Regions from separate parts of the Homo sapiens genome. Here regions 2 and 3 are each reported to be linked to region 1. Evidence: microRNA targets listed by miRTarBase, many of them from high-throughput screens and not tested one by one. Region 1 holds a microRNA gene; each other region holds the end of a gene's coding sequence.
The links. Region 1 holds the annotated microRNA hsa-miR-4755-5p (UUUCCCUUCAGAGCCUGGCUUU, at 6,950-6,971, opposite strand). A microRNA usually pairs through its seed, bases 2 to 8, with sites in the 3' UTR of a target mRNA and lowers its output. Matches are read on the target gene's strand: a 7mer-m8 pairs with bases 2 to 8, a 7mer-A1 pairs with bases 2 to 7 and ends in A, and an 8mer does both.

Region 2: the mRNA of UFD1 is a reported target of hsa-miR-4755-5p. The part of its 3' UTR that is shown has no 7-base or 8-base seed match.
Region 3: the mRNA of ABCC12 is a reported target of hsa-miR-4755-5p. The part of its 3' UTR that is shown has no 7-base or 8-base seed match.

The regions. Positions count from the first base shown.
Region 1 is chr20:34,045,632-34,056,098 of GRCh38, reverse strand. It overlaps MIR4755 (microRNA 4755), which reads right to left and starts at 6,980; the gene lies at 6,909-6,980. All of the region lies in intron 2 of RALY (RALY heterogeneous nuclear ribonucleoprotein), which reads right to left. RefSeq lists an enhancer at 9,481-10,289.
Region 2 is chr22:19,442,382-19,452,848 of GRCh38, reverse strand. UFD1 (ubiquitin recognition factor in ER associated degradation 1) reads left to right here. Exons shown (of 12, transcript NM_005659.7): 12 at 2,105-2,938. The coding sequence ends at 2,179. C22orf39 (chromosome 22 open reading frame 39) reads left to right here and starts at 5,138. Exons shown (of 3, transcript NM_173793.5): 1 at 5,138-5,184; 2 at 5,304-5,471; 3 at 8,459-10,467. The coding sequence starts at 5,161. The coding sequence ends at 8,584. UFD1-AS1 (UFD1 antisense RNA 1) reads right to left here and starts at 5,415. Exons shown (of 2, transcript NR_186687.1): 1 at 4,524-5,415; 2 at 1,161-1,255. RefSeq lists a silencer at 5,193-5,592 and an enhancer at 5,040-5,942.
Region 3 is chr16:48,077,299-48,087,765 of GRCh38, forward strand. It overlaps ABCC12 (ATP binding cassette subfamily C member 12), which reads right to left. Exons shown (of 31, transcript NM_001393797.1): 28 at 9,443-9,521; 29 at 8,295-8,408; 30 at 6,611-6,775; 31 at 3,584-6,503. The coding sequence ends at 6,417. Among named protein-coding and RNA genes, the nearest start is that of ABCC12, 73 kb to the right of the region's middle.

The DNA of each region.
Region 1 (10,467 bases):
TGGACACTGAAGAGTGAGCCATCACCCGTTCTGATGTTGTACGCAGCCCAGTGCTCAGTAAGGAGGCACTTGTAAGTCCCTATAGCTTCTGAGCATCTGAACCACCAATCCAACCCCTGAGCAGAGCATCCCATCTTGTGCCAAACCCTTTTTGTCTCATGTATTAGTCTCCTCTCCTCAAGCAACATAGAGATTTTTGGGCACATTGCTAGACATGTGATGGAAGCACCAATAGTGCCCATGGATCCATTAACTGGAGGTAATATATGCAATAAGACATACTGCTACTTTCTACATTAATAACAGTGACTTTAATGATGTCAAAGATATTAACAAGTTTATTATTTTAACAATCAATATAATAGCAAGGCATTCTTGCCCTGCTAGTTGTGGTATGAGCCGTTGGGCAGTGGGGTCTGATGTGCTGGCTAAGATCCACCTGAGGAGATTGTATTAAAATACTCTGTTTCAGTGTCATCTCTCCTCCCAGACTGACTGTGAATTCCTGGACAGCAGGGACCACAATCTATTTCATCTTGGCATCCCCACTGGCATCAGAACAGGCTCTAGCCCAGAGTGGGTGCTTAGGGAGTATCTGCTGAATTGAACTCCAGCAGAGCCACATACCACAGCCCCCATGCCCCACCCCTGCTTCCTTCCTTATCTATGCTGTTTAAGATACAAAGCGGCAGGCTGCACAGATGCTAAAGCCAGGAAAAGTTGGAGAGAGACAGGAAGGCAGTATCTTTGCAACAGCCCAATCCACCCCAGCATTTAGGAAAGAATGTAATATAAATGATCATTATATTAATTGCTTATTACATGGAAGATACATTGCTAAGTATTTAAATTCTCATCCTTACAACTCTTTGAGGTAAGAATTATATCAAGGTCACAATGGCTCTTTTTGGGGTTGTTTTAGGAAAATGACTCTGGAATCAGACTACCTGGGGTTCAAATCCCAGCTCTGCTATACGTTGGCTGTATGATCCTGGGTAAATGATTTAACCTCTCTGTGCCTGGTTTTCTCATTTGTAAAAATGGGAATAATATTACAGTACTTTCTCCATAAGGCTGTTGTGAGAATTCAATGAGATAATGTTAAGATAATGCAAGTTAAGTGCTCAGGAATTTTCTAAATGAAAATGGTATTACTATTGCCCCCATTTAACAGATAGCTCAAAATATCATACTCAACATTGAGTAAGGTTAAGAGGGAGACCGCTTCATCAATAAAGTACAACTGGAACCAATTTCTTTCTTTCTTTCTTTTTTTTTTTTTTGAGACAGTCTCATTCTGTCACCCAGGCTGGAGTGTGACCTCAGCTCACTGCAACCTCCACCTCCCAGGTTCAAGCGATTCTTGTGCCTCAGCCCCCCAAGTAGCTGGGATGCCAGGCATACACCATCACGCCTGGCTAATTTTTGTATTTTTAGTAGAGACAAAGTTTCACCACATTGGTCAGGCTGGTCTCGAACGCCTGACCTCAAGTGATCCACCTGCCTCAGCCTCCCGAAGTGCTGGGATTACAGGCTTGAGCCACCATGCCCAGCCTGCAACCAATTTCTGATCTGGCAGTGGTGGCTGGGGCCAGGAGTTTTCTGAGTACAAACCCACTGATGTGACGTCCCTGTAGAAAACTCTTCGGGAAAGCTTTTGTATCCCACCCCGTAGGCAGATCCAGCCACTCACTCCTCTGGACCCAGATACTCTCTGCTGACCTCTACTGCAACATCTGCTGCACTTTTGTATTTACACATCTGTCTCCCTCCATTAAATTCTGAACTCCTTGAAGGCAGAGACTATTTTATTAATCTTTGCAATCCCAGCCTCCAGCACTATACTAGCAACCAGTGAAATTTCTGCTAGTGAACAGGTGAAAGAATCCTAGGTGGGCGTTTTTCAGTAAATGGTTTCCCAAGGTACATGATACAACAACTCCTTAACAGTGAACCGTGTAGCTGATGTTTGTGAGATGAGCTCAAATTCCTCATCCATCAGCAGAATAGAAGGAGATGTAAGACACTGATGAGAAAGAAAATAAAGGAGAAGGCAGAGTGAGAAGCTGGGGGTCACTGGCATCATTGTTCAGTATACTACAGGGAGCAAAGGCAACAAAAGCTTGAGTCTGCAGCCCAGAGACTACTGAATCTGGGCTTTCTGTAGTGGGTAGTATGTATAAGGACAGCAGCAAAGGCCAGAAAATGCCATCCTTGTCAGCAATATCAATAGTGACAGAGATTCAGCCCTCCCTCTCTTTATTATCTGGTCACCCTGAGATGAAGCCCAACCACTGGCCCCACCAAGCTATCTTAATGGAAAGAATACTGGGCAAAGAGTTAGGAGACCATAAGTTAATCCCTGAGAATGTACTAAAATTTTCAATTAATAAATATTTCTTGGCTAGGCATGGTGGCTCACGCCTGTAATCCTAATACTTTGGGAGGCCAAAGCAGGAGGACTGCTTGAGCTCAGGAGTTCAAGACCAGTCTGGGCAATATAGTGGGAGCCTGTCTCTAAAAACAATTAAAAATTAGCCGGGCATGGTGGTACATGTTTATAGTCCCAGTTACTTGGGAGGCTGAGGTGGGAGGACTGCTTGAGCCCAGAAGGTTGGACCTGCAGTGAGCCATGACTGTGCCATTGCACTATAGCCTGGGTGACACAGCGAGGCCTTGTCTCAAAAAAAAAAAAAAAAAAAAAAAAAAAAAAAATTATTGAACATCTACTAAATGTTGGCCTTGCACTAGGCACTTGTGAAAAGGGTCTATCACTAATTTGCCGTCAAACCCTGGACAAGTCACCATCTCTTTTCTGAACCTTAACGTCCTCATATGATACATGGAAAAGAACCTCTATGTCACGGGATTGTGTTGTGATCAGATGTGCTTTGAACAATCTACCATATAAACTTGCAAATTTAAAGGTGATATTTTTGGGCTGGATGTGGTGGCTCACACCTGTAATCCCAGCACTTTGGGAGGCCGAGGCAGGCGGATCACCTGAGGTCAGGAGTTCGAGATCAGCCTGGCCAACAGAGTGAAAAAAAAAAAAAGTTTCTTTTTAAACTTGATTTGATCTTAACTAGAGGGCTTAGTAAAATGCAAGGATAGCCCCACTAAATGCCAAAGCCAACTTCCTCTGCCACTGTCTGGATAGAAATCCAGCAGAACATTCCTACCCCCTCAATTTTGTGATGGAGACGGTGACAGAGGAGCAGAAACTTACACATTCTCTTCAAACCCCTCTCAGGATCTTTTTTATATTACTGGTGTCAGAGCTTAGTTCTTAGTAGGAGCTGGACTGTGGGGACTGTGGGCCTACTGGATGAGTCCCCCAGATATAACTCAAATTTCTTACAGCAGGAAGAACAGAGTTCGACTTTGCACGGTAAGGGCACCTTTCCAGTTACTGAGATAATTACTTGACCCCTGGTCCTTCAACTGTTTGGAAACATCTGATGGCCATTAAGCCTGTTGTTTCCTCATTTTCCTGCCTACTGGGATAAACACATCAAAACAGAAAGCTTGATGCTCTAACAATGCTCTCTGATTAGTGGTTTGCAGGATCCTCTGTAATTTTAGGATTTGCTGGCTAGAAAAGGAACAATAGTGGAGTACAAATTATGGTGTGGCCTAGGAAAAAGTTAGGCACCCTGAGATTTAGACTTGGTTCTGCCATGGGCTGTAGACCTTGGTTAGAGACCTTAAGCTTCCCTCATCTTAAAAATTAAAGAACTGGACTGAGTCAGTTACATGAAATCTTCCACGGAAAACCAGGGTTCCTCAAGATGTTAATGAGAGTTCCTCAAAAAAGGGGCTCCAAGGTTAAATAAGAAGAGGAAATTTGGCATATTGCACTCTCAACTCGTTCCCAAGAGACACACACAATAAGGGTCTGCAAAGGCAGCGGTAAAGAAATTTACTTATTAGCATTATTCAATCTGATGTTTCCCAAATTATTAACATCTCTTCTGAGGAAGACACAATTTGAGGAAGACACACTGGGACAGATCTCTAGGGTCCCTGTCAGCTCTAACCTACTGTGATTTGCATCAGGAGTACTTAGCCAGTGCCTGGAGCACCCTGCTTCCCTTCTTATCCAGTTCTCTTAACCTAGTGAGGCATTTAAATGATACTCTGGTTAATGAGAATTTATTATATGTAGTCCATTTTACTGTAGTGAAAGTATCAGGCTGGGCGCAGTGGCTCACGCCTGTAATCCCAGCACTTTGGGAGGCCAAGGCACCTGGATCACGAGGTCAGGAGATGGAGACCATCCTGGCAAACACGGTGAAAACCCGTCTCTACTAAACAACAACAACAACAAAAAAAATTAGCCAGGTGTGGTGGCAGGCGCCTGTAGCCCCAGCTACTGGGGAGGCTGAGGCAGGAGAATGGCATGAACCCAGGGGGCGGAGCTTGCAGTGAGCGGAGATCACGCCACTGCACTCCAGCCTGGGCAACAGAGCGAGACTCTGTCTCAAAAACAAAAAAAAAGTATCAAATTTCAAAGACTCAGAGTGCAATATACTGAAAACGCTATCCTATGAGATAGGATACCTGCAGTTACTAAGCTCCTAACACATGTTCTGTACTGTGCTAGCATTTTCCATTAATTATATCATTAAATCCATACACAACCATAAGGAGTAGACATTGTTATCCTCGTATTACAGAGAAGGAAACTGAGCTCAGAGAGGCCAAGTAACTTGCCAAAGGTCACACAACTAGAAAGTGGCGAGCACCAGATTTCAAACCCAGGAGTACTCATTTTCCAAATCTTGGTTCTGTTTTGGGCTCTGCCACCATGACTATCAGATGGTCCCTAACTCTCTTTAAAGCTTCCTGGGCCTTAGTTTCCTCAACTGTCAAGTGGGAATAGTAATCCTTACACTGCTTCCCTCACAGAGTTGCTCTAAGGTTCAAAAGCAGTAACACGTATGAAAGGGGTCTGTAATATATAAAGATGTGAATATTAGGGGCATTTGAAACATCATGAATAAACGTTGCTATTTCTGTTCATGAATTTTAAGCTGTTTGTTCTTGCAAGGTTCCCAGTCATCCCTTCCCAAATAGTGCTCCTTAAAATTTTCATCAGGATTTTGAATAAACAGGAAATATGTCCATTTCTCTCAGTATTGATTACTCTCTAGGCTGTCTGACAGACTCACACTAAATTGCCAATCTGCTTCTTAGGAGTCAGGAGTGAAAACATCAGAGTGGGTGAGAGCCTGGTGGGAGGCCTGTGAGCTGGGAGTTATCTGAATAGAGATAGCATACTGGCTGTGGGGCTAGACTCCTCACCATCATCTTGGAACATGGCTGGGAAATAGGTCCAAAGGGTCATTTGGACAGCAGATCCCAGCAGCCTCTGTATGAGATCTGTCCAGGAGACTAACCCCATTATATGGGATGGCAAGAGGGGGAGGTGACTGGAAATGAGAAATGGGACCAGGCTGACCAGCTACACTCTCAGATAGAGACTACCCTGACAAGGGCCTAGGCACAGACACAGAAGTAGTTGGGTGCAGGGCTCTCAATTCATCCTTCAACCCTGCCTGATATCACATCCTCATAACCCACATTGCTGTGGCCATCTGCTCCCTCTAGTTTCTGGCAGATTAAGGCCAAAAACAACAGCAAAGCATTTTTGGATCAAGGTCCTGCCTGGGGACAGAGAAGTAAATAATACAAGTCCCTGTTCTTAAGTAAGGCACTAGACCAAGACGGTTTGAGCCTAACTAGAGGCTCTCTTGCATAGCAAAGTCTCTGGCACATGGGTTATATTCAAGAATTGTTTGAACCGAACTGAATCAAAGGAACCTACATTCTGCAAGTTAAGAGCACCTGTTTGGTGTCAGGAGCCCAAGACTTCTAGATTCAATCCTGGTTCTGACATGTACAATTCAGGGACTCTGGACCTCAGTTTGCCCATCTGTAAAGTGCACTTTGTCTACCCCACAAGTTGCTATGAGTAGCCAATGAAGTAGTGGCTCAGTAAATGGCACTCTGTAAATGGCATGAGATGGAACAGCAGGAGCTGATGGGAGCACGGGCGCACATGATCTTAAAAGTTTAGAGTCCAGCCTGAAGAAGACCTGAAATAAGCTCCTTTCTTTCTCCCCAGTCAGCTTAGATCTGCTTTTCAAACACAGCAGACATTCTCTGCATTTCTGGTGACTGTGAAAAGGGGAAGGGGATAATTTGCCACTAAGTAGGGGATAGAAAGAAAGGTTGCCATCTTTATACTTTTCAAAATAAGAGCACGGGATTTGGATTTATAATCCTAACTTTTGTTAATCAAAAGCTGTGAAACTATGAACAAGCCTCAACCTCTCTCAGTTTCCTCATCTGTACATTGTGGGGAAATTTCCTAAGTCATAAGATTGCAGTTAAGGTTCAATGAATTAATGATGTCAAAAGTGTTTTGAAATCCACAAAATGCCAAACAAACGCCAATCATTACAAAGTTGTCTGTCTTCTCATCAGTTTACCAGCTACATAGGACAGTGGTTATTTACCATTTGACAGGTGAGATCATCAAAGCCCAGAGAAAGTGCTTAAAGTAACACACAGCTCAATTCTGACTTCTTACAGCAGAGGTAACTGTTCCTTTACTACAGGGGTTCTTAATTAGCCTGCTTGCCTCATTAAACTGACAGATCTCTGAGGGAGGGGACTACATACATCTTACACATTTTTGTACCCCAGTGCCCATCATGGCACACCTAAAAGATGTGAAGTGTTACTAGAATGATGACTAACATATTGGTAGCAGAAACATATCTAGAACTCAGGACTCCTAATCCCAGATCCAGGGTTCTTTACAACCATACAGTGGCCCAAACCTCATAGACTCGGCTTGCCTTAACATCTCATCTCTTCCTCAATTCTCCACTCTAGCAAGATTCAACTTTCCCTTCAGAGCCTGGCTTTCATAGATGCCAAAGCCAGGCTCTGAAGGGAAAGCTGAATCTGGCTTTCATAGATGCCAGTTCCTCAGCCATAACCTTCCTCATCTCTCCTTGCTGAGCTAATTCCTATCCATCTCTCAGACTTGGAGGCCTTTCTAATCTCTCCTAATACTGGGTCAGGTATTTACTTTCCTCCATGGCTGTTTTGTTTATCACAGAGTCCTGGCACACAGAATGTGTTAAAAGTATCTGTTGAAGGCTGAATGAATGAAACACTGGGTGTAGAAATCCAAAGGTGATGCAGAGAAAATTTTTTTTTTTTTTTTTTGAGACGGAGTCTCGCTGTCTCCCAGGCTAGAGTGCAGTGGTGCGATCTCGGCTCACTGCAAGCTCTGCCTCCAGGGTTCACGCCATTCTCCTGCCTCAGCTTCCCGAGTAGCTGGGACTACAGGCGCCCGCCACCACGCCCGGCTAATTTTTTGTATTTTTAGTGGAGATGGAGTTTCACCGTGTTAGCCAGGATGGTCTTGATCTCCTGACCTCGTGATCCACCTGCCTCAGCCTCCCAAAGTGCTGGGATTACAGGCGTGAGCCACCACGCCCGGCCGCAGAGAAAATATTCTTGACCTGGAAGTCATGCAGCCTGACTGATTCTAATTCTAACTCCACTACTAATGCGTTTCGTGATCTTGAGCAAGTCCCAGTTCTTCTTTGGACCATCTATAAATGAGTTACACAGTATGATCTCAGAAGGTCCCTCCATTGTTAAAAGCATATGAGACTTAGACTCATGTGAAGTCCTAGGGATGAGGAGATTCCAAAGCCAGCTATATGCTCCATAGCATAGGAGACCCAACACTCTCATCCCCCCAGGAGCACGAGAGACACACGACTCTGCTGTCAGGAGCCTCCCAGCCCATTGGTTTACTTAATTCCTCTTGATGAAGTGCCAAGAATAAATCGTAGGTGAGCAGCAGAGCATTTTAACGAGTCCAGAGCCTAATGAATCTTTTCCTTCCTGTGTCAATTAGAATTTCAAAGCTAGGATCCCCAAGGACCAATTTATTGGGAACAGAGAGAAGAAGCCTTTTGTTCATCAGCAGCTGCCTGAGCTACCTGCTCTGCTCCTGTATCTCTGCTGTGTAACAATCCTGCTTACTCAGATATAACATCTGGCACAATAAAGCCTGGCCTGGAGGCTCCTTCTTGCCCAACATTTCTGGGGTCTGAACTTGAGGAAGGAAACAAGGGTCCAGGGTATTTCTGAGGGCAAAGGTGGGGTTGGGGGTTGGTCAGGGAATCAGAGCAGTGCTGACGTTGCTGCTATCTCCTAGGGATACTGGCCTTCAAAGAGCTAACAGCCACAGATCACCAGGCTACTCACCCAACTAAGTATCTGGTACTGTGTGGCACCTATTTACCTGTTATTTTAAATCCTCACAACCTCAAAAGCAGATATCAACCACATCATTTTAGAGAAAAGGAAAAAGAGGATCTGAGAGCTAAAGGATCAGCCTAAGGAACACAATTATTACAGTAAATGGCAGAGAAGGATTTGAACTCAGGTCTGTGCGACTCCGAAGACTAAAGCTCTATCAAACCAATACAACTCTGCCAGGAGCTGATGTCTTGAATGGCAGAGATGGCCCATGGTCAGCCATAGACACATTAGGCATTTGCCACCAACACACTGTCTTTTGCCCGGGCACATGCAAGAGTGGCTGCGCATCACCAGTCCTTCCATTCAATGGAGCTGGCAATCCTCCATCCCTAGAAGATAATCCAAGCAGAGTCACCATCAACACTGCCCCCTGCTCCTACCCCAGAAACCTTTTATTTGTGAGGAATTTCCAATTCTTGATCTAATGGCTCCCATGCACCCAGTTCTCCACCTCCCATACTGTCCGCTCTAAGTCACACAGGGCCAGCCCAGGTACTACTGCTCTGTATTCAACAAAGACACATTTTCCAAGGTCAGCAGATTAGCAAGTCAGGTTTCCAAATGTAACTAGTGTTGAATTTTAGGGCTCTAGTGTGAAAAACACATTAAGAATAGAGGTCAAGGCCAGGCATGGTGGCTCACACCTGTAATCCCCCCACTTTGGGAGGCCGAGGTGGGAGGATCACCTGAGGTCAGTAGTTCGAAACCAGCCTGACCAACATGGAGAAACCCCATCTCTACTAAAAATACAAAATTAGTCAGGCATGGTGGCACATGCCTATAATCCCAGCTACTCAGGAGGCTGAGGCAGGAGAATTGCTTCAACCCAAGAGGTGGAGGCTGCAGTGAGCCGAGGTCACACCATTGCACTCCAGCCTGGGCAACAAGAGCGAAACTCCATCTCAAAAAAAAAAAAAAAAAAAAAAAGAGTGGAGGTCCAGTGACTTGTCCAAGTTTACACAGCTAGAAAATCACAGAGCAACAACTGGAACACAGGTATATACTGAATCCTAACCTGGCCTCTATCTACACACAACAAGAATAACAAATATATAAAAAATGAGATCAGTGCTTTTTAAAAATTAACTTTTTATTTGGAGACAACTATGGAATCACTTGCAGTGGTAAGTCCTTTTAAAAGCACTGGACACTTAGCAAAGTGCCGGTCACACAGAAACCCTCCCAAGAAATGTTACCTATTAAGTATTACGAAAAAGGCAAAGGGCATTCAGAAGGCACCTTTGAGGAGGAGTGAATAAGAGTTTCTCTTTACCCAATGCTTAAAGTATGTACACATACAATACCTTAAATAATCCTTCCAATGACCCCATGAAGCAGGTGTTAATAGCCTCATTTACAAACAGGAAAACCACTCCCAGAAGTCAAGTTACTTGTCTAAGATTTCTTTGGTCCCAGCATGTGCCAAAGCTGGGATTCAAATCCAACTATATCCAACTCCAAACTTTATCCTCTTTCCACATTGCTTCTTTGGAGATAAGACTGGGGCTGGGCTTCAAAGACAAGCCTCCTGGATACAGACCTGTGGTTAAGAGCAGGCTGCCAGTTCAGGTGTGGAAATAATAGCATGAGCAAGGATGCAGAGTTAGCAACATGTCTTTGCAGAGGGTAGTAGTTCAAAGACACCGGCCTGAATCAAACAGTAAATTCACATGACAAAGACCAAACAAAAAGCTAAAGTGAGGGCAGGTGGCATGGGGTCCTGGAATGCTGCTAGCTGCTTGTGTCAATTACATGGGTCACAACTTGATTCCCTTCCGCTGGAAACTGTAAGAAAAGGGGAACGGCACACAGAAAATGAAGAGCCAGACACCAGACGGCAAGAGAACTGGGGAAAAGAAATCAAGTTTTACTCCTAACTAGGTAAGTAGCCTTGAGCAGGCCAATTTCCCTCTGTGGATTTCTAATACCAGGGATTTAACTAAAAGATGTCCAAGGACCACTCTAGCCATGACCTTCCAGAAATCACTCTATTACCAAATCATGTGAGCAAATGTAGGTCTGAGAAATGGGAGAGAGCTACATGAGGGAGAAGAAAATGAAGGTATTAAATGGGATTCAAGTTAATATTGGCCAAAAGACAGAAGATGG
Region 2 (10,467 bases), not on the chromosome of region 1:
TCACCATGCATTAAGGACATCATCAGCCAAGCGCCATGGCTCACACCTGTAATCCCAACACTTTGGGAGGCTGATGCGGGAAGATCATCTGAGCCCAGGAGTTTGAGACCAGCCTGGGCAATATAGGGAGACCCTGTCTCTACAGAAAATTTTAAAAATTAGCCAAGCATGGTGGCACGCACCTATAGTCCCAGCTACTTTAATGCTGAGTTGGGAGCATCACTTGAGCCTGGGAGGTGGAGGCTGCTGTGAGCTGAGATCACACCACTGCACTCCAGCCTGGGTAACAGTAAGTCCCTGTCTCCCAAAAAAAGGGACATCATCTTAGCAGGACACAGAGGAAACTAGAAGATAGTGGAGCAATATACTCAAAATTCTGAGGGGAAATTTTTTCCAACCTAAAATTCTGTACCAACTCTTATGAGCTGGATTGTGTCCCTCCAGTGTTTCTGTGTTGAAGCCCTAACCCCCAGTAACTCAGATAGGGCCATTTAAAGAAGCAATTAAGTTAAAATAAGACCATTAGAGTTGGCCATAATTCAATCTGGTGTCCTTTTAAGAAGAGGAAATTTGGACATAGGAAGGGCCATGTGAGGACACAGCAAGAAGGCAGCCATCTGCAAGCCAAGGAAAAGGGTGTCAGAGGAAACCAAACCTGCTGACACCTTGATCCTGCACTTCTAGCCTCCAAAACTATGAAGAATAAATTTCTGTTGTTTGAGCCACCCTATCTTTGGCATTTTATATGGCAGCCCTAGCAGACTAACATACCAACCAGCCTATCAATGAAATATGAGATTAGAAAAAAGGAACTCACAAGAAGATAATCCTCATGCATCTTTTCTCAGGAAGCTCCTAGGAGGTGTTCCTCACTAAAATGAAGGAATAAGGTAGAAATAAGAAAGTCATAGAATCCAGGAAATAAGGAGCCCCCACTAACATGTACGGCACCTAGAGAAAGGCCAGTCCAGGTACGGCAGGGCGAAGGCCCAGGAGACACAGGTTTGTCAAAACAGATGAACTCCATGCAATGCAGGCTGTGATTGAATAGAGGAAGAAGCCAAACACAGCTATTGACACCAGGATGAATGGAAGGCTGTGCGGCAAAGGAAGACTAAATGCAGCTGTGACTCAAATTTACATGAATGTGACCACATAAATACTAAACAGTGCTCTATTGCAGGTATAACATGCTACAGTTAGTGGGGAGCCAGGTGCAGGGATGTGTGTTGAACATTCCAGAATCCTCTTCTTCCTAGGGAAAAGTTGAGATAATGCCTCAGACTGACTAGCAATAAAAGCATGTGAAAAAAAATATGTGCAGTTTTCAAAGGTTTGGGAAAAAACAATCCCTCTTTCTGCTGATGGAAGGATAGCTTAGTGGAATGTTTCTGAGGGCTGGTTGGTCTCTATATGTTAAAAGCATTAAAAGTGTGTACACACTTTGACCCAGGAATTTGAGCTCTAAAAAAAATCAGAGTTGTGTGCAAATACATTAAGCTGCTTACCACAACAATGTCCACTGGTAGAAAACTGGCCCTCCTACATCATGGAATTCTTTTTTACAGAATTCAGTTCTGTAGCCTTGGGAGTATACTAGACAGGAAGTTTATTGGCATGAGATTTCAGAATTAAGTGGGAAAACAATTCTTTAAGCATGTACAGAAAAGTGACCTGAAATGTTTTTGGGTGATGAACTTACAGACTTTTTTTTTTTTTTTTTTTTTTGAGGCAGGGTCTTGCTCTGTTGCTCTGCCATCCAGGCTGGAGCAGTGGCACAATCATAGCTCACTATGGCCCTGGCTCAAACCATCCTCCCGTCTCAGCCTCCCAAGTAGCTGGGATCATAGGCACATACCACACTGAGCTATTTTTGGTAGAGATGGGATCTCACTATGTTGCCCAGGCTGGTCTTGAACTCCTGGGCTCAAGTGATCCTCCCACCTAGGCCTCCTAAAGTGCTGGGATTACAGGTGTCAGCTATCGTGTCCAGCCTGAGATATTTCTTATGAGTAATGTGGATGGTACGTGAGTCCATAGAGTAAGGCATTTATTGTAAACCTCCAGGGAGTTTCTGAAAATAGTATCTTCTCTTCAAACCTAGGATGAAGCTGGAGGCAGATTCGTCGCTTTCTCTGGAGAAGGACAGTCATTGCGTAAAAAGGGAAGAAAGCCCTAAGTGAGGACTGTTGGCTGATTGGAAAATAATAAAAGAATCATTTGCAACATCTTGGCTTTTAGTTACTGGCACTGACAGGGACGAGCCTCATCAGAGAATACTCTGTTACTTAAGATTTATTTAGAGTTACCTAAGAATTATTAAGTTTGACTTGGAAGTGGAGCAGCAGGACTTTGTAGTTGTATGCTTGATTTGGGGAAAGACAAAGAGCTGTCCCTGAGGGCCTGTAGATAGCTGCCTCCTCACCTCTTCACGCTTTCAGCTTGAGGGGAGCTCCCACTGCCTCAGCAGGAGCAATTCTGCATCCCTAATTCTGTCAAAACCTATGAAGGTGACTAAATTGTCTAACATGAAGTGTTCTTTCTTTTTCTTCATTTATCCTTTCTTTTCCTACATCAATTGCATAGGTGTCAGTCTTTGGCCTAAAAAAAGGCTTTAAATAGACATGTGTTCTATAAGTAGTGGCTGTCCCACTACTGTGGCTGCAATTTAAGTATTTGACAAAGAATGTTTCTATTTTTATTTTACATATTTTTTTCAAAAACACCACTCAGAAGAACCTGATCTGAATGAGTTTGCACTTTTATTCTCATTTCATATGGACATAACTGGCTCCTTAGTGAACCTGTTCATAGTGAAACAACTCCATGGAGAAGCAAACATGTGAATGTTAGAATGAACAAATGCTAAAGAGATGTTCCTCTCCTTCTTCCCTACTCCCCAACTCCCAATTTTAATTTATTAAATCATCCAAGCTTCTGCTGGCCTGTATTTTTTATCAGTATTTATTTGGTCTTAGATCTTCACTTTCTATAACGTGAGATCTTTTGACATGCTAATCTGATTATTTTAAATTTGTTCCCATGAGCCACTGTGCCTGGCCCCATTGGGAATAATTCTAAGCCAAGAATTTCAAGTAAAAACAGGCAATAACTAAAGCCTAAATCTAAATGTTTGATTAGGTACTAACACAGACTGGTGGTTGGGCCTCTGACCATAACTGAAGGCCTGTTGGCAGGTGCTCCGTGTTCCATCTCACCATTAGAAAAGTGTCCCTCTGGGGCTTCTCCTGGAGAAAGTAGGAAGAAACAAGGCTGCCTGATCCCTAGGTGGCAATGGCTAAGCCCAGCAGGGTCCCCCATGAGCCAGGGCTAACCCTGCTTCCAGACATGGGGGTCCTGCCCTGGTCAGGGCCCCTCCAACACTCCAGAGAGGAGAGAATGGTGGCCCCAGGGTCTATCCACGTCTTCAGTGAAGAGTGTCTATGAGTGTCATGATGTTCAGTACTTGGCCTGTGGCACAAACCATCATCACTGGAAATGGGCGTGGTTTTGGAAGGCATGAGCACTGTGGGGACTTACCTGAGCCTCCACTGACAAAGTCTCAGTTTTACTAGCAGAGGGAGAAACCCTTGGTGGGTAGACAGCCTTCATTTGCAGGATCACATCAGCTAACAGACTGTCACTTTATGCATAATGAAGAATGTTACAGTACCTCTGGCTCTGGGTTTTTGTCTTCACTAAGCAACACCTGCTGTGTATGCAGTGAAACGCCTGGTCCTTTGCTGGAGGCACACTCCCCTGCCTGGACCAGGATGGATTCCATTGCAGAGCCTTTTAATGACACAGTGGGGCCAGTTGGAGCACTGATCCTGGTCATTACTCCTGCACCCTGGCCTGCAGCCTTCCTCTCAGTGTCTTATTTGGGCTTGGTCCTTGAGCCGGCTGCCTCAACAGCAGGACCCCTGGTAAAACTGCAGCTTTCTGATCCACCTCCAGGGAGTCTGTCCCAGTGTCATTCCTGGGACTGGCCCAGCAGTCCCAGGATTTGTATCAGTGGATACTGAGGATTTGTTATCAGTGAAGTGGGAGAACCGCAGCATAGGTACTGCAGGGCGTTTCTGCAAGCCCACCAGCCTCCTCTTTACTTGCCTTTGTTGCCTCTTGTGCATTGCTCCTTTTTATAAACGTCCCAGCCAGGCACTGGCGCTCCGCCTATAATCCTAGCACTTTGGGAGGCCAAAGTGAGAGGGTCGCTTGAGGCCAAACTAGCCTGGGTAACTTAGCAAGACCCCATCTTTACAAAAAAAAAAAAAAAAAATTAAAAATTAGCCTGGTGAGGCTGTGCATGCTTTTGGTCCCAGCTGTTCGGAGTCCAGGAGTTTGAGGTTGCAGTAAGCCATGAACACGCCACGCCACTGCACTAAGCCTGGGTGACACAGCAAGACCCTGTCTCGAAAAATGAATAAGGTAAATGTTACATGTCTCCCGCACCCTTAGAATAGAACTACAGACATCCAAGCCACTCCTACCCCGCTCACCCCTGCTACACACCGCCTCCATACCTTTGACCGGCCTATGGCTGTACTCGGATTGCATTCTCAGCCTCCACTTCAAGCCTGCGTTCCCTGGGGAGGTCATTCAACCCTAGATCCACCATATGTCATGCCCAACCAATCTCAGTTACTTTGCGAGTTCACCTCCATCCTGAGTGGACGCTCAAGCAAGACTGCTGGAGCTGCAGATCTGGGAGGTTCGCTGCACCACCTTGATGCTCAGTATGTACTTTTGAAAATATACCGGATTGTTGAGATTTGAGAAAATCTCATAAAGCTGCTGAAAAGAACTGGCCAGAGCCGTGTGATTTGAGAGGCGGCTGACGTAAGGTAGCTGCGCGGCCCAGGATGCCCGCCTGGCCCGGGGTGAATGGCGCTGTCGTCGCGGTGGTCGCGTAGGCTTCGCGCCAGGTCTCGCCCCGGATTTACCCTGCGACCCCGGCCCTCCGCGCGCGCCGCAGCCGCCCTCGGTTGCTATTGGTTGCTCGTCCTGTTTGTCGGCGCTTCTCGAAGAAGGGGGCGAAGACGTGATTGAATGTGTCGGTGCTCATTAGTTCTTCTGTCAGTCGATCACGAGGTGCCGTTTTCTTCATTTTTCATTGGCTGGCGGACTGAGGGGCGGGCTTGGCGCGCCGGTCGCCCAGACATGGCGGACGGCAGCGGCTGGCAGGTGAGTGTGCTGGGTCGGAGCCGGGAACCACCGGGGTCTTCCGGAGGGAGGGAACGGGACTGGCTCGGGGCGTAGGGCGCGGCCGCCGGGCCCCGCTCAGGCGCCGCCTCTCGCCGCAGCCGCCGCGCCCCTGCGAGGCCTACCGCGCCGAGTGGAAGCTCTGCCGCAGCGCCAGGCACTTCCTACACCACTACTACGTCCACGGCGAGCGGCCGGCCTGCGAACAGTGGCAGCGCGACCTGGCCAGCTGCCGCGACTGGGAGGAGCGCCGGAACGCCGAGGCCCAGGTGCGCCGGGAGGGAGCGGGGCGGCGCTTCGGAGCGCCTTGCGGGGCCCAGCTTTCCCCACCCCTCCACGCCCCATGCCCCGCGACCTAGCCGGGGACTGACGGGGTCCCTATCCTCCTCACGCTTCCTTTCTTTTGAGAGATTGTGTAAATTAGCATATCAACAGGACTTTCAGAGGGCGTGAAAGACAAAGGAGGAGACCAGCGAGGAGGGGGTGTAGAGTGGTTTAGAGAGGGAAGAGGGCAGCCGTCCGGTGTTAGGGTCATCAGCTGGCCTACGCAGGAGGTGATGTTGCTGAGTCCTGAGTGACCAGGAGCCAGCCTTCATCCAGCCCCGGTAGACACCGCTGAGAAACAGATAAGGCCTGGGTTCCTGAAGCAGAGGGTAGGTGGATGGTTGGAGAGCGGTATACCAGGGACCTGGCGGGCCTTTTGATACGGAGTTTAGAGTTTAGTCTAAAGTGTGCTGGGAGGCATAATTCGATTTATATCTTTAAAAGATCAGTCTGTTAGCAAAGTGTGGTGGCGTGCACCTGTGGTCCCAGCTACTTGGGAGGGTGAGGCGGGAGGATCGCCTAAGCCCAGGAGTTCAAAGCTGCAGTGAGCTATGGTCACACCACTGCACACCAGCCTGGATAACAGAGGGAGACCTGTCTCAGGGGGGAAAAAAAAGAGAGAGGGTAAAAGAAGTTCAATCTGTTTGCTAGGGTGTAGAGAATATATTACAGGAGCAGAGAGACCGGTAAGGAGGTGGTTCTAGTTGTTTTTTCGTCCAGCAAATATGTACCACATTGGGTGCTCTTGGGGATGCACGAGTGATAAGAAGAGTCTCTGCCCTCCTGGCACCCACACTGTAGTGTAGAATACAGTGCTACGGTGGACCCCTTGTGGGAGAGGAGATGGAGAGAAGCCAGCCGAAAGGTGCGAGGCTCATGGGGAGTGCCAAGGAATGAGAATCAATGGGACTGATCAACACTTCAACATTATTAAGTGTATACAGTGATCTGAAAGAGATGAACTGATGTGGAAACCAGACTGCTGTATAAAAGAAAATGATGACTATTCCATAATATGTGAAAGTCAAAAAAAGTAAGAAAGCTGACAGCTTATATAGCAAGAGATTGATAACTTTAATGTATATATATGTGCGTGTGTGTGTATAAAGAGCTGTTATATATATATCAATAAGAAATATAGGGATTATTTCAGAATGGAAAAATGGCCAAAGGACACAAAGAAGCAATTCATTAAAAAAGAAAGCCAGCTGGGCATGGTGGTGGGCACCTGTAATCTCGGCACTTTGGGAGGCCGAGGCAAGGGGATCGCTTGAGCCCAGGAGCTTGAGACCAGCCATGGGCAACATGGTGAGACTCCATCTTTATAAAAATAATAAAAAAGGAGAAAAGCCTGGGCATGGTGGCTCATGCCTGTAATCCTAGCACTTTGGGAGGCCGAGGTGGGCAGATCACCTGAGGTCAGGAGTTTGAGACCAGCCTGGCAACATGGCGAAACCCCATCTCTACTAAAAATACGAAAATTAGCCACGCATGGTGGCAAACACCTGTAATCTCAGCTACTCGGGAGGCTGAGATAGGAGAATTGTTTGAACCTGGGAGGCGGAGGTTGCAATGAGCCGAGATCGTGTCACTGCACTCCAGCCTGGGCAACAGAGTAAGACTCCCTCTCAAGAAAAAAAAAGAAAAAATCAAATGGCCAGGTGTCAGGTATATAAGTCTAAATGACAGTAACAGCAGAAAGTGGTGTTGATAGAGGTTTGAAGAATTCTGGGTAGTTGTGCAGTGTTGGTGGGGGTGTCAGGTGTTCTGATTATGTAAATGTCAGATACATACCTTTTGACCTTAAGTTTTACTTCTGGAACTTTATCCCAGGGAAGTAATTGGATAACAGTGTACAGTTAAAAGTTAGAATGCTAATTATGTTTTTGATACTGCAAAAGCTGAAAACAACCTAAATTTCACTAATAGACATTTGACCAAATAGCTTTTTCCACAAAGTGAAATACCAGATAGCCTTTGAAAAGAATGGTCGGTCATCTCCCTGGGTATGGAAAAGTGCCTACAGTGTATTGTTTAGTGAAAAGAAAGCAGGAAGTAGACTAGCCAGCAAAAGATTATCCTATCTTTAGGGAAACATGTTAGCTCTAAAATGTGGACCAAAAAAAGATATCAGGGAAGCTGTTAACTGCCGCATTGGGAATGGACATTTGGGAATCTTTAATATTCTGTACTACATTTCTGATAGCTTTTTAAACACGATCAAAATATTTTATTTGAGGCAATAGAGCTTGAACAAAGACAGACATGTAGACAGATTAAGTTATCTGTGTAAAGAGGCTCACATAGCACCTGATACCTACCAAGGGCTGACAGCAAAGGTCACCCATGTTGTGATACACTGACTTGTGTCTGTATTGGGAGACAGTAGCCAAGAGAAGCTGATGGGTTAAGTGGCACTTGTGGCACCACTCAGGCGGGTGGTCTGTCCTCTGGACTCTTCCCACCCTTCCAGGATACCCAGGACATGTATTTCTTCCCCGTCTTCCTCCCTTCTCCCTAACACACTCCTCCCTGCAGCTCCCCACAGCTGCTCTCTCAGACTCTTCTCTCCTCTCCACCCAGCACCCCCAGGCTCACTCTCAGCAGGTGAATATGCCCCAGACTCACGAGGTCAACCAGAGCCATTGAGCCCTGAGGTCCAGGAGAAGATATTTAAAAATTCCTCAAATTATTATGACCTATTCAGTAGTTTTTCACAGTAGCTTGTGAGAAAAAAAATGATCTCCATCTCTGTGCGCTAATATGGAAGAATCGCCAAGGTATAGTAGGTGGAAGCAGCTGTGCTGCAGAGTGGTGTGTACCATAGGCCCTGCCTGTCCATCTGTGTTTCAGAGGGTGATGAGAGGGGGGAGGTACAGGGGTCTTGAGGGTGCTCAGAGCCTGGGGAGTGACTAGAGTCTCATTTGCACAGCAATCCCTCTGTGAGAGCGAGCGGGCACGAGTCCGGGCTGCACGGAAGCACATCCTGGTGTGGGCCCCGAGGCAGAGCCCCCCTCCAGACTGGCATCTCCCTCTGCCACAGGAGAAGGACGAGTGACAAGCATCCCTGCCATTGGCCTGTGCAGCTTCCTCAGTCTGTTTCAAGTTGCTGTTGCACAGCCCTGGGGACTGTGACCAGCCTACACAGTCTGGTGGGTCCCTGTGAGCTCTTGCTCACAGGAACATGGAGCAGGACATTGCTAGCCCTACTTGCCCACCCCTCACCTGCATGCAGGATACCCTGACACTGCGATGTTCTGCAGGACAATTGCACCGCTTTAGAGCTTCCAGGAGGCCAAGCATTATGGCAGGTACTTGTGAGCAGCCAGGTCAGGCTGGGCATGGTAGCATAGGAGATGGCGGTCCTGAGGTCTAGGCTTCTCAGGTAAACTGAAGGGTAGCCCTGACCTGTGTGGACACACAGGTGGGTCATAATGAGGTAGCTAAACAGTTGTGCCACTGTGAATGTCTTTCCTAGTCCTTGGGAAACTGCCTGCCACGTCCCAGGTTTGGTGAGCATTGTGAGTGCTCACACTCTGCTCCACTCGCTCAGTTCCACTGCACATGCAGGCAGGTGTGCCGAGCAGGTAGGGCTTGCTGGCCCCTCTGCACCAGCAGGCTTCACTTCTTAGGCTCCCAGGTCGGCCCCTGGAGACTCTGGTTTTTAAGAAATGCACACAGCTACAGAACACACAACCTTGCATAAAGAGGGTTTGTGGACTCAGCTGAAGAAATCCAAGTCCAAGACATATGGAATTAAGCACTCCTTCCCTCAAAATTTCCCCTGGTGGTTAATGTATCAAAAGCTATTTCATCTGATTTCAAATAGAAGCTGAAAATTAAGTTCACACTTGTTAGATTTTGTGTGTAACAGTGTTGTACCTGGACAGTATTAGAAATTTGTATGCTTATTCTCTTGTTAAGTGTTTTAAAATGTATGAACCACCAAAAACACTATTTCTTGAAGAGGTCTGTTTATTACTAATAGAATGGTTTCTCATCCTATGGTGGCCCTGTTGTGTGATGCTGAGGGCTAGGCTGGGTCTGTGCCCAGCACCCTCCCTGCTCTCTTCCTGGACACAGGCAGCAAGTTGAATATCTTTTAATTTGTTCTTTGGGGCAGAATAATCTATCACGTTAGAAGGGTGTCCATTAAAGAACAGTATTTCCCTGCTTGAGTGTGTTTTCTCCTGTGCTCCCTAAGAGCCCCTGTGTCTGTGAACAGTGGGGGTGGGGGTGGGGGTTGTGCTCACGGGATCCCAAGAGCAGGAGCATCTAAAGAGGAGCCAGCGTTCCCCCATCATCAGGGGAGTACTGATGTGTCTAAGGCAACCAGGGTGCCTCCAGCATGGCTGTGGCTGGTTTAATAATGAGCATTTCCACCCAGTGAGGGAAGAGAGGAAGACTGCTAGAGATCTACAAGGTTTTTCTTACTCTTAAACACAGGGACGGGGCATCTGAATTTGCAGTCTGCTGTAATCCCAGCACTTTGGGAGGCCAAGGTGGGTGGATCACTTGAGGTCTGGAGTTTGAGACCAGCCTGGCCAACATGGTTGAAACCCCCCATCTCTATTAAAAATACAAAAATTAACTGGGCATGGTGGCACGTGCCTGTGATCCCAGCTACTCGGGAAGCTGAGACAGGAGAATTGCTTGAACCCCAGAGGCAGAGGTTGCAGTGAGCTGAGATCGTGCCACTGTACTCCAGCCTGGGCGACAGAGTGAGACTCTTGTCTCAAAGATAAAATAATAAAATGAGTTTGCAGCCTGCATGTGATGCCTGGGATTGCAGCAGCTGCCTTCAGGTTCCTGGGGCAGAGCTGGAGAGTGCAGCAAAAGCCAGGGCATGCCAGCCAGCACCCCAGTCCATGAGGGGCTTCCCCTCAGTGCAGCCACGCTCCCTGCCACCTGCTTGTTTAGCAAGGTATGCATTGTGCGGCT
Region 3 (10,467 bases), not on the chromosome of region 1:
CCTTGCAAGATGGGCTACCACAATTTCTCTTTCTAAAAAATGCAAAGCCAATAAGCACATGAAAAGATGCACAACACAACTCATTAGGGAAATGCAAATCAAAACCACAATGAGATACCACTTCACACTTATTAGGATGGCCTTAAAAAGGAATTAAATTCTGATACACGCTGCAACATGGATGAACCTTAACTGAAATAAGCCAGACACAAAAGGACAAATACTATATGATTCCATTATATAAGGCACCTCATGCAGACAGAAAGTAGAATAGTGGTTGCAGGGTTTTACGGGGACAGGGGAATGGGGAGTTTAGTGGGCACAGAGTTTCAGTTTGGAAAAATGAAAAATATCTGGAGACGGATGATGGTGATGGCTGCTCAGCAATGTGAATGTACTTAATGCCACTGAAATATACACTTAAAATTGTTAAAATGGTAAATGTTTTGTTATTTCCATTTTACCATAATAAAAAAAATTATTTAGAGCAATGCAGAACAATTGCCACAAACCACGCTGAGGCTTCTTTGAGTGTGGCTCTTGCCAGGTGAAGGAGGCAGGTTTGTGCTAAAACAATAGAAACTGACTTGGTCTGGTCCTTGAATGCTGGTCTCGGCAGAGGGAAAGCTCTCAGCTGAAGCCAGGAACGTGCACATCATGAAGTTAGGCAGGGCTTCTCCATGGAAATTGACATTTATTTGAAGACGTTAATGCTTGATTTGGCCTTACCCAGAAGTGACCTTCTACACAGGGCCAAAAGAAAAGTGATTTCTTTGATCGTCCATCTGACCCAAAACTGAACTCCTGCCTTTTCCAATTCATTTTGAATCATGCTGTACTGGCCAAAGTGATTCCAGCTCTTAGCAAAGAACATTTCATATTTTACCAACAATTCTGGGCCAATTTCAGATCTGTTCACTTGAACAGCAAGAATAAAATCTGTGAGTTCTCTCTGGGTCTTTCTGATCTTAAGCAGTAGGGAGGGAAGGCAAGGGGAATATTTATAATTTGCGTGAAGCTTGGGGGACAGATGAGAATCGGAAACTCCTCCCTGCTTCAATGTGAACTGGCTCACTTGGGCCACATCTGAGTGGGAGGGAGACGGTGTAACTCGCAGTGCGGGGACTGGGATTCTTTCTTCCTCAGGTGAGGATCAGCATCTTCCCAGGCAAGAGGAGAATATGACTCTTCTGTGTTGTTTACAACACTTTGGGCTGCAAGTAACAGCAAGACCAACTAGAGTTGGATTAAACAACAAGGAAAATGTATCCTCTATAACAGGACAAGAAGAAGGAGCTATACAAAAGAATAAGATCATGTCCTTTACAGCAACATGGATGCAGCTGTAGGCCATCATTCTAAGTGAATTAACGCAGAAACAAAACCAAGTATCACATGTTCTTGTAAGTGGGAGCTAAACATTGGGTGCACATGGACATAAAGATGGGAACAACAGACACTGGCGACTCCAAACGTGGGGAGGGAACAAGGATTGAAAAACTGACTATTGGGTATGTTTTCACTACTTGGGTAATGGGCACACCAGGAGCGCAAATCTCAGCATCACACAATATACCCATGTAACAAAACTGCATGCATACCCCCTGAATCTACAATTAAAAAAAAAAAAAAGACAAGAGGTAGGGTGACTTCAGGGTTGGTATATCAGCAGCTCCGTGCAGTAAGCAAGTCCCTGTGCTCTGTCCTTCTGTCTTGCTTCCTTCATGCTCACACGAGGCTGCTGACTCCCCAGATAGACCAGGCAACGGGAGGGTATGCCTTCCAGACCCCATCCCGACAACCAACAGACTTCCCCCTCATATGAATCATATCCCACGCCAATGCCCCAAATCGGAAGACAGCAACCTTTCTCTGTAAAGGAACAAGATAGTAAATATTTTGGGCTTTGAGGATATACATTTGGTCACAATCACTCCACTCTGCTGTTGGAATGTGAAAGCTGTCATAGGTAATGAATTAACAAATGAGCATGGTTGCATTCTGATGAAATTTTATTTATAAAAACAGGTGGGCTGGCTGGATTTGGCCTATGGGCTAATTTGTCCACACTTTTTCTAGACCAGGTAGCCTCAAAATTAGCTCCAGGATACAAGTGTTGATGAAACAAGTCACAGGCAATTTGTTACCAATTTATAACCACATGCTTGTAAGTGGCTTATTCCATTCTCTGTTGGCATCTACTATTCAAAAGGTCCTAATTCATAACATTGAGCATATGATCACCCAAAAGGCAGATGATATCAGAGCACAGCAAAGCTGGGGCACTGAAATAAATGAGAATAAAAATTTCAAGGCCAGGCGCAGTGGCTCACGCCTGTAATCCCAGCACTTTGGGAGGCCGAGGTGGGCGGATCACTTGAGGTCAAGAGTTCAAGACCAGCATGGCCAACATGGTAAAACCCCGTCTCCACTAAAAATACAAAAATTAGCCAGGCATGGTGGTGCACACCTGTAATTCCAGCTACTCAGGAGGCTGAGGCAGGAGAATCTCTTGAACCTGGGAGGTGGAGGTTGCAGTGAGCCGAGATTGCGCCATTGCATTCCAGCCTGGGTGACATCTCAAAACAACAGCAACAACAACAACAAAAACATTTAATTACATTTATAGGGCATTCTAATCCCCTCTGAATGCCCAAATTCCAATAGAAACTGTTTTCATATCTCCTTTTTTGTTTCTCCTATATTGAAAGTCAAGAATGAAAAAGACCTTAGCACTTTGTCCAAATTTTACAGATGGAATGGAGGTTCAGAGAAGGCAAGCTACTTTCCCCATATCACACAGCCACTCAGTGGCAGAATGAAGATCCCAACCCAGGCTATAGTAGGTTGTTGTATTGTTCAAAATATTTGCTGCCCCTCCAAAGAGGAAGCTTATACAACTCCTGCTGGAATAAGCTTGGTCCTTGTGCCTTATGGTGGCCCTCCCTGTGGAGTAGGGTATATACCACCACCACTACCCACACTGTTGAACTCAGGAGCAGCCAGGCAATTTGTTTTGCCCATGAAATGTGGATGAAAGTAGCATGTATCACTTCCGATTGCCATGTCTGCCTGCCCTCTACCACAAAACATGATGTTCCTGGCAGAGACTGCTCTGCTCCGCTGGGTCACAGAGTGAAGAGGATAAGCACAGTCACAGCTCACCTGTGATGGATGTGTCACATAAGCAAGAAATAAGCCAGTGTGGTCTGGGGTCTTTTGTTACTGCAGCATAACTGAGTCTACCCAGACCAGTACTCAGGCTTTACAACACAGGCACTGCTCTTTCTCACCAGGAGGATTGCATTTCTAGCAGTGTTGCATGGAATTTAACAGCACATGTTTTATTTTTATTGTATGTATTTCTGTAGTGACGAGGTCTCACTTTGTTGCCCAGGCTGGTCTCATACTCCTGGAGGAGCACACTTTTTAGAGTCAACCTGCCTGGATTCAAATCTCACCAGTGGCTAACCTTGGTCAAGTTACTTTCTTGATGCCTCAGTTTCCTCATCAGTAATATAAGGATAACACTTGTACTGTGTTAGTCTATTCAGGCTGATATAATAAAATATCTTAGACTGAGTAATTTATAAACAACAGAAATTTATTGCTCACAGTTCTGGACGCTGGGAAATCCATGGTCGAGGTGCCAACAGATTTGGTGTTGAGTGAGGGCCCATTCCTCACAGATGATGCCTTCTATGTGTCCTCACATGGAGGAAGGGGTGAACAAGCTTCCCCAAGTCTCTTTTATAAGAGAGCCAATCCTATTCATGAGGTCTCCACCCTCATGACCTAATTAATCACCTCCTAAAGGCCCTACCTCTATACTGTCACACTGAGGATTATGTTTCAACAGGAGGATTTTGGGGGAACACAATGTTCAGATCATAGCAGACACCTACCCCACAGGGATATGTTCAGGATTTAATAACCTAAGCCTGTGCTTTGAGGAATTTGGCTAAATGGCTACTATTATTCTACATAGTCTCCCCTTGGCTGACATGGCAGTGATAGCAAGGGGTTGGGGTGGGAGAGGGGTTTGCTAAGATGGTTTCGTGTCTTATACATGCAAACAGCCAAACCCTCAGAAGTCACTCTCCCCCAGGGATGATACTGATGACCATCACTGTCCTTGCAACAGGCCAAGGGGAAAGGACTGGAGGGGCTTTGTTGTGAAGGGGTTGGGAGCAGGGCCTGTGGAGCCAGACTGGTTAGGGTTCAAGCCCTATCTCTGTCCCTTCCTTCCTGGGCATCTGTAGATAAGTTACTAACCTCAGTGAGCCTCAAATCCCATCTCATGGGGTGAGATGAGGATTCAGTGAAATAATTCATGGAAAAAATGCTTGTCACAGTCCTGGCACACTGCAAGGTCTCAGTAGACATCAGGATCAATGTCGGTGTTCTTCTTCTGCCAGAGTAAACCAAAGCGAGTGTGGGCAGAAAAGGAGTCATAGGAGGTGATTCATCTCTCAATGCATCTGAAGGAGCAGCAGGGATCATTGTAGTCTATCCTCTGTCCTCATGAAAACACCACCTCTTGAAATCACAGACTGATTATCTGGCTGGTGTCCAGTTGGTAGAAAGTAAAGCATCCCTCCCTGACATTGCACAACTGTCATGGATTCCCATGGCCAGCACAGACTGCCCAGTCTGCTTGTCATATTGGGGAAGTTATCTTATGTCCATAAAGGTGATGCCCACACTCAGCTGGGAGCAGCTGCTCAGAACGCTGTGGATGTGGGTTTAATGACCTTCAGTCAGGGTCATGCACCATGGGGGAAAGCTCAGATCAGGCAAAGATACACTGTGTCCCTTCACAGAGAGATCCACACTTGGCCTGGAGCTGCCCACAGAAGGAACCCCCTGGCTCACGTCCTTCTCAGCCACATGTCTTAGTGCACCCTCTGCTGAGGGCAGGATCCATTGCTGCCAAGCTGCTGGGCCAGGGCTTTCATGCAGTTGCCAGGTTATAAGCTCTACCTAAGGCCAGGTGTGCTCACCTCCCCGCTGGTTGGGTAGACCCCTGCCCAGGCCTGGCCGGAGGAGGGCTGGAGAATAATCGGTTGGAGGTTAACCTCACATGCCCAGCCCTTGAATTGCTGGCTGTTGGCTTTTTGGCCAGAAATCCAGATTAAGCTCTTAACATGCACACACACCTGGGAGGGGTGTCCGCCAGGCTCCACAGCTGTGTTTCAGCGAGTTCATTAGATGCTGTCATTCATGGCTGCCACAAGTGTTTCCCGAGTGCTTCCAGGTGCCAGGCACTCCTTCCTCCACGTCTGGGGAAGCAAGTACGTGACCAACACTTACAAGGGAAGTGGGGTGGGGGGTTGTGGTCTGGAAGCTTTGCTGACCACACTGCCCTGAGCTACATTTAGAGCTCAGCCTGGGGCCTGGAAAGCAGGCCCAGGGAACCTCATGGGGCCTTCATTCCTGATGAATGAAAAACAGCCAGAACTCCCAGCGTGCCCCTTGGCGGCTACTACACAAGAGCTTGCTGGATTTTCTATAAATATTTTTTTCCCAAATGTCACCATGAGTTAGCAGCGCTCACTCCTGGGGCTGCTGGGAATACATCTTTACTGCTTCCATCAGAACCAGCCTCCAGGTTGGAGAGAAAGCTTTTTGTTTGGTAAGCGACTGTGAAGGTTCATTACTGAGTGAAGGGAGAAGGCAACAAGGGTCTATTGGAGGAAATAGTATGGAAATTGGAATATCTTCAGTGAAATAATTGCAAGGCGACATTTCAGGGTAATTTCCTACCGCGTTTTAACGACGAATAAAGAAGATATAAAAGTGTCATTTATAGAGAAACTCCAGCATTTTGTTTTCTTGGTTATTCTAACAGATCAATTGAAACATATAATATGATTTTTAAAAAAATTTTTGGCCAAACACTGTATTCAGTCTTTCACGCTACAAATCTGTGTCATTACCACTTGTCACCCAGTCAAGATGGAAGTGAGTGGGGTTAAACGAGAAGAAAATTCTGCTCTTTTTCCTTCTGATAATGGGCAAGGAAACCTTGCAAACTCCATCCTAAGGCATTTTCCCATGTTGTTTATTGTGGCTGATTTCTAACTGAAAGTTACAATATTTTCAATCTCAGGCACTGGGGTGGTTTTGGTGAAAACACATGAGGAACCCTTGGGGATTTGGGAGGTGAAGGGCAGTTTTTTAATCCATTAGCTGGGTCTGCCCCGGTTCACCACCCAGAACCAACCCCAAGCCCACCAAGTGGGGTGACATGGACTGAGTATGGCAGTGGGGACAACTTCAGCCCCAGCTCACTCCGTGGATGGGAGGGGCTGAAGACCAGGGCTGCCTGCGGAGAGGACAGCCCCTCCTCCTGAAGACTCCTCCTATTCATCTCACAGAGCCTCTTCCTCCTCTAGAATCAGCCGCCAGGACCTCTACAATCTGACTTCTGCTGCTAGTAACATCGCAAATGCAGAATCTGGCTTCTCTGCAAGGACTTCAGGCTTGTCAAACTCAATCACCTGAAAGTCAGAGAAGAAGAACTGAAATCATCGGAAAATATCTACCCACTGTAAAGCTCAAACCACTGGACTTTCTGGGGAGGTGAAGCCAAAAGAGCTTCCTATACCTTCCCATTTTCCATAACCAGGACGTGATCGCAGTTGAGAACTGTGTTGAGGCGGTGGGCGATGGTCAGCACAGTGCAGCCCTTGAAGGCATCTTTGATGGTGTTCTGAACCAGGGTGTCAGTCTTGGAGTCCATAGAGGCGGTGGCTTCATCAAGGAGAATGATCTGTGGAGGAGGAAACATTATAAGCCAAAGGCGCACTGAGAGGGGAATTTACAGCCTCGGCTCTATTTACTTTAAAAAAAAGAAGAAGAAGAAAAATAAGACCACAAGATGAAAAGTAATTAGCTAAACATCCATCTCAAAAAAGAAAATGAGAAGAACAAGAGTGAAATAAAAGTCACATCACATCACCTCCATCTTTCCAAAGGAACTTGCTAGAGGGACAAGGTTGTATATCCTTTATTCCTCTTTTTAAGTGGTTTATTCTAACCCTACAAACTCATAGGGAGACAGGCTGCACAGGCTTTATCTACTGTGCTAAACTGAGTCGGCATGAAGCACAGCAGCTCCTACATTCATTCCCTATATTGCTGCCATACCAAACAATCACAAACTTAGAGACTCAGTGTAAATTATCTTCTAGTTCCAGAAGTCAGAAATCCTAAAATCAAGGTATTGTCAGGGCTGCATTCTTTCTGTTTCCTTGCCCTCTCCAGTTTCTGGGCCACTTGCATTCCTTGGCCCACAGCCCCTCCTGGCATCACAGCTCCTTCTCTCTTTGACTCTTCTGCCTCCTCCTTGGAAAGCCCCATATGAATATGCTCAGCACACCCAGATCTAGGATCATCTCCCCATCTCAAGATCCTTAATCGCAACTGCAGAGTCCCTTTTGCCAGGTAAGTTAATATATTAAAAGTCTCGGAGGAACATGTTCGCAGGTTCCAAAAATCAGGACATTAACATCTTTGGGGAGGTGGGGGTATTATTCCGCTGATCACAGGACGGATTTGATTTAGCAAATCAGAGCACTTGAACTTAACCCCTGACTCTGCTTGACTGGCCAAGTTACTTAACTTCCCCGAGGCTCTGTTCCCTCGTAGGTGAAAGGGGGCTATGCCTTATTGATGAGCTGGATATGGAGACTACACTTAAACCACTTAGCAGCATGCAGTGCCACGGCAGGCATCAGATCCACGCCGGCCCCTCTCCCCTGACATTAGCACATCTAGAGAATACACACAATGGGTCACATCTTTGATGAGGCTTCAGAGACTGGCATTACTAAAGCAACAGCAATCCCTTCCTGGAAATCAGTAAGTAAGGGTGGCTAAGTTACAAAGAAAAATAAGTATAAATTCTACAATTCCCATATCCTAGCATTCTGATGGCCCTCTTGAGCATCCTGGGGACAGTGTATCCAGATTCAGAATTGTTCAGAGACAATGGGAGAAAGTTGGGAGACAGATTTTTCAAACTCAAACCACTTAGGCAAGCAGAGTGAAAATCTAAGCGAGACCTCCCCAGGGGAAGCCTGGGAGGGGAAGGTGCTCTTGCTGTAAATGGCTGTTACTTTTCAATTTTTATCCCTCACAACTTTGTCTTAAGAAAAAGTGATCGGTTTTTAAATGGCTCAATTGCTGTCTCTTTGCTGAAAGACATACACGTGGCTCTGCCTCCTGGATTGAGTGGCGCTGCGGGAAATATCCAAAATTTGACCAATCCATTTTCCGTGTTTTCTTACCTTTGAATTACGGAGAAGAGCTCGGGCCACACAAAGCAGCTGACGTTCCCCTACTGAGAAGTTTTCTCCATTTTCTGTGACTTCTGCCTGTAATTTTTCTGGGAGTTTCATTATCTACAAAACACAAAAAATGCCACATTTGTGCTGATGATCTATAAAATTGTCCTATGCTGTCTGTATTGATTGCCCCCTTCTCTTGCATTCATCAGCTTGCTTTATTTTACTGTGGCAAAGAAAGTGCAAAACAACAATCATTTCAATATTGCAAACAGGCACCAGGGAAAGACCAGGGAGTAGACGGACATTAATAATTTAAAATCACAGTATGACTCATAGAACCCCATAGACAATTCACCAAAAGAACAAATGATGCAGATGCAGTCCCAGAGAGCAAACAAACAAGTGGAAACAGCTTTCTGGATTGCTGTTTCCAGGGACCAAATAGAGATGGGATGGGAGAGTTTTCTGGACATTAAGGAAGGGTAAGACAGGGTCTGACTTATCCAGAGTGACAAGCCAAAGTGGCCTTGGAAGATGCTCATGTCGGTACCAAGTCCTGGAAAAATATCACGTTGGGCTGCAGAGGTGTCCATGCTCACCTGCTGACCCCAGCTGGGGCTGTAGCTCTTATAGGACAGGGTTCCCTCTCACAGATGGTTCGGTCCTCTCCAACCAGCCATACTTGCCATTCCCAGAACATTCCACACCCTTCTGTTTTCTGTGGCTTGTCTGTTCTGATAGCAAATGAGGCCACTGGCAGAGTAGCAGGGCCTTCCATCTGCTCTACAGCCAGACAGGCTTGAGTTCAAGTCTCCATCCTGCTACTCACTAGCCTGGGCATGTTACTTCCCTGAGCTTTAATTTCTTCATCTCTAAAATTAGGGGTAAGAGTACCAACCTCAGAGCATTGTAGTAAGGACCAAGTGAGATGATACATGTAGTGCTCTTGACTGGATCATTGTAGAGCCCTATTGTTGCTTTTAATAGGAAAGAATAACTAAGGATTATGTTCTACTGACTTACGTGGTGTCTACAAATAAACCTGGCTAAGTGCTGGCCTAGGTGCTTGTCAAATTTAAACATAGGCCAGGAATCTAGGGCAGTGGTGCTGGGAAACAAACTCCTCCTCAACAGCCCCAGAGACCTACTGTGTCTCTCATGAATGTTCTCTCCAGAACCTGCCAGAGCATCTCATCGGTGTGACTCTCAAAGGGATCCAAGTTGTACCTGCAATGAAGGAGAGGAGAGGACAGGGAGCCAGATTTCCAAGGACGAGAGGATGGATGCGGAGCAGGTTTTCTGTAGCATGTGGAGGAGGGTAGGAGGTGGCATGTGATGACCTCGTGCTCCAAGAATAGTGCTCAGTACAGGACAGTGGTCCACAAAATATGGACCTCAGGCCACGAGACCAAGGGCCCACAACTCTGCAATGGAGCAGAGACCACTGAGGCAGGCAATGACAGGTGGAACCCTGCCGAGAGGCAGCTCTGAGCAAGGTGCTCAGAAAGACACACCTGGGCCTCTCAGCAGCCCCGAGTAGCAGAGTGGGTTTGAACTGATAAAAATTCTTGGCAGAGAAAGAGGGAGAGTGAGCAACCCAAATCTGCCACTCCATGTATCGGCAGCTCCTAGGGCCTCACAGGGTGCTGAGCAGCTCAGACGCAGAATGTAAATCTACTGTTTCAAGAGGCAGAATGCATTTTTCAAACAATGAACTCTAAATACAGTAAATACAGTTACCCTACTTCATCTGGTGCTGTATGGGAGAAATGTTCCTCTCATCACAGAGAGAGCTAACTGAGAAACTGCCTTTCCCCTTGTGCCTTGATATCAGATCTGGAGCCCCACAGAAGCTGCAGCCCTACTGTTCTTGTGCTTGAAATAGCTTCTGTTCACTTAGGTGTGGAAATAAATGAATGCACTTTGCAATGGATAGCTGTATACACGGGGTAACTATTTATTTTATTGTGCAAACTGGGACACTTTTCAGAGTGGCCATTGTTAAACCTGATGGGATACTGGGACACAGGCATAAACTAGGGCTGTCCAGAGCCACTGGAATATCTGCTCAGTGTATGAATGAATACAGAAGCATCTTGCTCATTAATAATGTGTTTATAAAACACAAGTAATGCTCAGACCCCGGGCCCTGGCTCCTCCCAAGGCTGGATGC